2 separate regions of the Homo sapiens genome follow, and region 1 is linked to region 2. Evidence: fine-mapped expression QTL. Tissue or cell type: whole blood. Region 2 holds a variant in brackets; the other region holds the start of a gene. All regions are shown on one strand. Distances are from middle to middle. Region 1 holds the start of LCMT1-AS1 (LCMT1 antisense RNA 1). Region 2 has its middle 19 kb from the start of LINC02175.

Region 1 (2,905 bases), 26 kb before region 2:
AAACTCTAATGGCACTGCCGTATTTGTCAGCACTCAACACAAAAAAATCATAATTATATATTTCATAGGTAATTATTTGCTTCCTGTCTCTCTTTTCCAACAAAGCTGTGAGTTCCAGTATGTCTGACACCATGTCTGTCTTGTTCTTGGTGTATTTCCACCATCGAATTCCTACTAACCACTGCAAAGTAAAGGCCTGGCACAAAGTAAGGTCTCAAAAAATTTTGTTGAATGAAAGAATAAATGGTGGACATTCAAGCCTCAAGCTTTCTCTTTCTCTGACACGTACCTCTGCTGGCTACGCCCCCATCCCCACCACCACACCCTTAACAGTGGAGACTTAGTGCGGTACTGGCTCTGCAAAGAGATATTACTTGGCTCTGGGTGGGTTATTTCCCCTCGTCATCCTGAGTTTCAGGTGCACAACAGGGATCACACCAACCCCCTAAAGAATGCAACCTACAAAAGAGAGAGAACCTACACCTCTCATCCTCGTAACCCATCGAGGCTGGAGCTACTATTTGCTTCATGTCTGTCTTTCCAGCAGCGTTTAGCTCCAAGAAGCCCAAGGCCTCGTCTGTCTGGCTCAGGGGCCTGCTCCCATCGACGATACCCAGGCTGGCCCCCTGCCTGGCTCACAGCAAAAGCTCAGAAACGATTCGTTAAATAAATGAAGCCCTGCTCCGTGCACTTCACAGGTGGGAAGCGAGGGTCGTGCGAGGCGGGGGCTGCATCCCTGCCAGCCTTGAGCGTATTCTTCAGATGCAGGCCCACCTCCCACCTAGGCCCGCGCCCCAGATGCCGGCCCCGAACCCCGCGCCCGACAGGCACCTCTTGCACAGGGAAGCATCTTCGCAGGTGCCGCGCACGCCCTCGTCGTCTGCGTCGCAGCTCGAGGTGGAACAGCAGGAGGTGATAGAGGATTCCCTCTGCCTAGTGGCCATGGGCGTGGAGGTTCCTGGGAGCTGTGTCCGCCAGGGACATGGAAGCGGGGTCGACGGGCGGCGGGGGACGGCGCGAGCCACAGGGAGAAAGCAACAGAAGAGGGTAGGGCCCTACCTGGCTCAGCTGGCGCGGCTCAGTGACGCCGCCCACGCCGGCTACCCCAGCAACCTCTCCGCTTATTGGCTCCTCTTCCGAGTCGCTCATTGAGCAATTCTCCTGCCCGCTCAGCCTACGAAGTTGCTCATTGGATAATTATTTTGGCACCGCCCACATAACCCGGAAATTTGACGATAGGAAAAAGAAACTAAACAGTAGGAGAGTATCGCAATCCTTTCTGGGAAGCGTAGTCTTAGGTGTCTGGAGAAGTCGCCCGGTTTCTGCTTGCTGGTCGCGAAATTTTATAGCTATAATTAACTCAGGGCGGAACAGCTAGCAGAATCCTCAGCGTTCGGGCAAAGGGCAGAGAATCCAGCCAGAAGCAACATGTGTAAGTTGTTACATTCAGTCCGGGCTCAGTGTCATTCAATTTTACAAAATTTTGTTGTGTGCTGACTCTGCCAGCGACTGTGCTGAGGGCTTTGCCCCCAAAATTGCCTTCGAAATGTAGTGAGGGGGGCGGGCGTAGTGGCTCACTCCTGTAATCCCACCACTGTGGGAAGCCGAGGCGGGCCGATCACCTGAGGTCAGGAGTTCGAGACCAGCCTGGCCAACATGGTGAAACACCGTTGTTACTAAAAGTACAAAAATTAGCCGGGCGTGGTGGCGGCCGCCTTAGTCCTGGCTACTCAGGAGGCTGAGGCAGGAGAATCGCTTGAACCCGGGAGGCGGAGGTTGCAGTAAGCCCATGTGGCGCCACTGCATTCCGTCCTGAGCGACAGAGCGAGACTCCGTCTCAAAAAAATAAATAAACAAATAAATAAAAGAAAGAAAGAAAAGAAATGTAGTGAGGGAAGTAGTGTGTGGAAAAGTAATACAATAGGAAGCCATGTAGCAGCGATCATAAATGAACTAGAGCTACCAGGTAGCAGCATCAATGGCTGAATCTCAGAAACACGATGTTCAGTGAAAGAAGGAAGTCTAACAACACTTTTGTAAAGTTCAAACCAAGTAAAACTAATGTTGTTTAGAGAAACGTACATATATGGTAAAATACTGTACAGAGAAGGCAAGACATGAGAAAAAAAAATAAAAAAGAATCAGGATATTGGTGATCTTTAGGGAGCCGGGAGGGTAGCACACAAGAGGGGGAGGGAGAGGCAGGGAAGGAGCACATAGACACATCCTCAGTTTCTCACGTGGGAGTGGGTTCACGTGTGTCTGTTTCATTATGAGGCATATTCAAGATGTTTTGGATTTATTTTGTACTAAATCTAGTACAAAATATATGTATAAATTCAAGATGTACTGGGGAAGTCGCCTGGTTTCTTGCTGGTGATGAAATTTTATAGCTATAATTAACTCAGGGCAGAACAACTAGCAGAATCCTCAGTGTTCGGGCGATTGGCAGAGAATCCAGCCAGAAGCAACCCTTGTAAGTTGTATATGTATAATAATGTTTAATATACATTATAAATTAAAAATGTCTTTGTATATTCCATTTTGTTATCTGTCAGTTGTTGGAAGCAGGAAACAGATATACTTTAAGAACTTTGAATTGCACTCATTTTTTTAAAAAGAAAATCAACAACAGAAACCCAGAATACACACCTTGGAGTGAGGTCAAATATCAAATGCTAGCTCAGTATTCTAATGGAGGCACAAGATCTCATTGATAGCCACAGTAGAAATGACAAGAGGGGAATGACTAAGGGTGGAGAGCTTTGCCAGGGGGAATGCTGATGGGATGAAATACACCATTTTCTTGGAGTGGTCCTTTGCCAAAAGGGTAATACAAACTATTGCACAAGCATCATCTCCCAGCTTAGCAGTGTCCACATTCCACGGGTGTTAGTGGATAGTA
Region 2 (2,919 bases):
CCTCCTCTCAGATGCCACCCCCTTGAGCTCAGGCTCTTATCTGGAGCTCACCTTACCTGGCCATCTCCTGTGGCCTCCTAACTTTTCACCTTCATCTATCCTTCCTCAGTATTCTTCATGCTGAGACCAGAGTCATTTGAAAAACACATTTATGGCCATATTTGCTCCAATTTTAAATTCTTACACACCTGATTGCTCTTAGGTGTCTAGTGCTTGGTTCGTGGAATATGATCATAACATATGACTGGAGAAATAATTACAGATACTCTGTGTTTTTCCCCAGGATGAAGATCGTCTCCCAAGTAAATATGTTGAGTTTGACTGGGCACCGTGGCCCACACCTGTAATCCCAGCACTTTGGGAGGCCAAGGCGGGCAGATCACTTGAGGCCAGGAGTTCGAGACCACCCTGGCCAACATGATGAAACCCTGTCTCTACTAAAAATACAAAAATTGGCCCGGCATGGTGGCATGCACCTGTAATCACAGCTACTCAGGAGGTTGAGGCAGGAAAATCACTTGAACCTGGGAAGTGGAGGTTGCAGTGAGCCATGATCATACCACTGCACTCCAGCCTGGGTGACAGAGTGATACTCCGTGTCAATAATTAAATAAGTAAATAAATAAGTTGAGGTCAACTTTCAAATGATCGTCATGAGAAAGCTACACAGTATTAAGTAAGTGTGGTTTAGCCAGAAGAAAAAGAACCAGGTAGAATTCACACCCAGCTCTCGGTAGATGGCAGATTTCACTTTAGGGAACTGCTTTCCTTTGACCCCCTCCCCACTTGCTTTCTTGGCCTGGGATCCTCACTCCAGCATGTCGTGCAGTCTTCAGAATGCGATATCCTTTTCCTTACGACTCTTCTAGCAATTAATGTAATTTGCCTGAACATTTAAAAAATGACCTCTCATAATTTCATAATCTGAATCTTTATGTGTCTTTCTTGATCCCCAGGGCATAGAGAAGGTTACCTGGCCCAGACTAGATGTGCAGTAAATGGTTTTTGTATGTGTGAATGAATGGAAGACTGAAGTTAGTTATTATAGATGAGATATTATGGGGCCATTCCGAGTCCGGTATTCAAGGAGTTTGCAAAGTTGCAGATGACAAGTTTGCTAATGTGTGCTGAGTGTTCGTGCCTAGTAGCATGTTAAGTGGTTTGCTTGGGTTGTTTCATTCAGTCCTCACAGCGGACTCGTGAATTAAGTGCTGTTATTATCACGTTTTTGCAGATGAGGAAACTGAGGCTCAAAGAAGATAATGTGCCCAAGGTCACCT[C/T]GCTAGGAAAGAGTGGAGCTGAGATTTAAACTGTGACTTTAAGCCCAAGTTCAAGGCTTCTTACTAGTTTTAACTACATTCCCATACCCCTTTTAATCAATCATGTAAATAAAATCTTAATTCTTTTAAAAAATTAATATGTGTTTCAGCTTGTCCTGTAGAGAAGACTAATACTTACAAATGGGAAATATTCGTCAAGCTTTATTTTTTCTAGTTTGTCTTATGAAATTAAGTTTTTCAGCCTTTCCCAATATAAAGCTATATTTTATATTAAATATGCTTTTTATTTATTTTTTTGAGACGGAGTTTTGCGCTTTTTGCCCAGGCTGGAGTGCAATGGCGCAATCTCAGCTCACTGCAACCTCTGCCTCCCAGGTTCAATCGATTCTCCTGTCTCAGCCTCCCAAGTAGCTGGGATTACAGGCGTGTGCCACCAAGCCCGGCTAATTTTTGTACTTTTTAGTAGAGACAGGGTTTCACCATATTGTTCAGGCTGGTCTTGAACTCCTGACCTCGTGATCCACCCACCCTTGGCCTCCCAAAGTGCTGGGATTACAGGCATGAGACACTGCGCCCAGCCAAGTCTTAGTTATTTCTACATGTAAGTATTTCATGATCCGTTTGTGATTTGGACATCAAATGCTGAGCATAATGCTTCGCTGACCTCACCTGAGACCTGCATCCACTGAATTTTTACTGTATGTGCTTAGGGCCGAATGTAATTAAAGTCTTGTTTATTTACTTCTTTTTTTTTTTTTTTTTTTGTAAATAAGGTCTCCCGTTACGCAAGCTGGAGTGCAGTGGCAGGTTAATAGCTCATTGTAGCCTCAAATGTAGCCTTCCCAGTAGCTAGTGAAGGCCTTTTTAGAGGGGCTCTTGCTTTGAACAGTAGCAAATATATATTTGCCATTTTTGTAGTGAGTGTCTGCATTTGTGCAGTAAATGAGCTCATGAGTAAACTGAGGAGTACATGGACTCATCTCCTCCTCTTTCTTTTCTTTTTTTTTTGGTTCAACATATTTCTGTTGAACAAATGTACATACACACTGAACAGCTATATCCTGTAGTTCAGTATATTTCTGTTGAATGAATGAGTCTCTACCACTTGTTTATAAATATAAACATTTATGTAATTTTAATAGTGAATAACATACATGTTTTGTAACTTGCTCTTTTCATGTCAGCATATACAGATCTGCATCGTTATTTATAATTGCTTTATTGTACTCCTTTGTGGAAATTCCCCTCTATTTAATCTATTTAATCTTAATAGAGGGGAAATTCCCCTCCATTTAATCTGTTCCCTACTGATAATCACTTAGATTTTTGCCTTTTTATTTTTTGTTTTGTTTTGTTTTCTTTTGAAACAGGGTCTCACTCTGTTGCCCAGGCTGGAGTACAGAGACTCGATCACAGCTCACTGCAGCCTCAGACTCCTGGGCTTAAGTTGCCCAGGCTGGTCTTGAACTGAGCTCAAGCAGTCTGCCCACCTCAGCTTCCCAAAGTGCCGGGATTACAGGTGTGAGCCACTGTGCCCAGCCTATGTTTTTATATTAAACAGTGTTATAGCAAATACAAGTATATGTGCATGTTTGCAGGAATCGCTAGTGCAGAGTTTGCACATTATGAATAGCCACTG

The links.
Region 1: it holds the start of LCMT1-AS1, and the variant in region 2 is fine-mapped to the expression of LCMT1-AS1 in whole blood (TOPMed, PIP above 0.99).

The regions. Positions count from the first base shown.
Region 1 is chr16:25,109,923-25,112,827 of GRCh38, reverse strand. It overlaps LCMT1-AS1 (LCMT1 antisense RNA 1), which reads left to right and starts at 1,273. Exons shown (of 3, transcript NR_120306.1): 1 at 1,273-1,432. LCMT1 (leucine carboxyl methyltransferase 1) reads right to left here and starts at 1,086. Exons shown (of 11, transcript NM_016309.3): 1 at 832-1,086. The coding sequence starts at 944. RefSeq lists enhancers at 779-938, 1,029-1,358, 1,136-1,663.
Region 2 is chr16:25,084,088-25,087,006 of GRCh38, reverse strand. No RefSeq gene overlaps it. Among named protein-coding and RNA genes, the nearest start is that of LINC02175, 19 kb to the right of the region's middle. The variant C/T (reference allele first, on the strand shown) is at 1,281.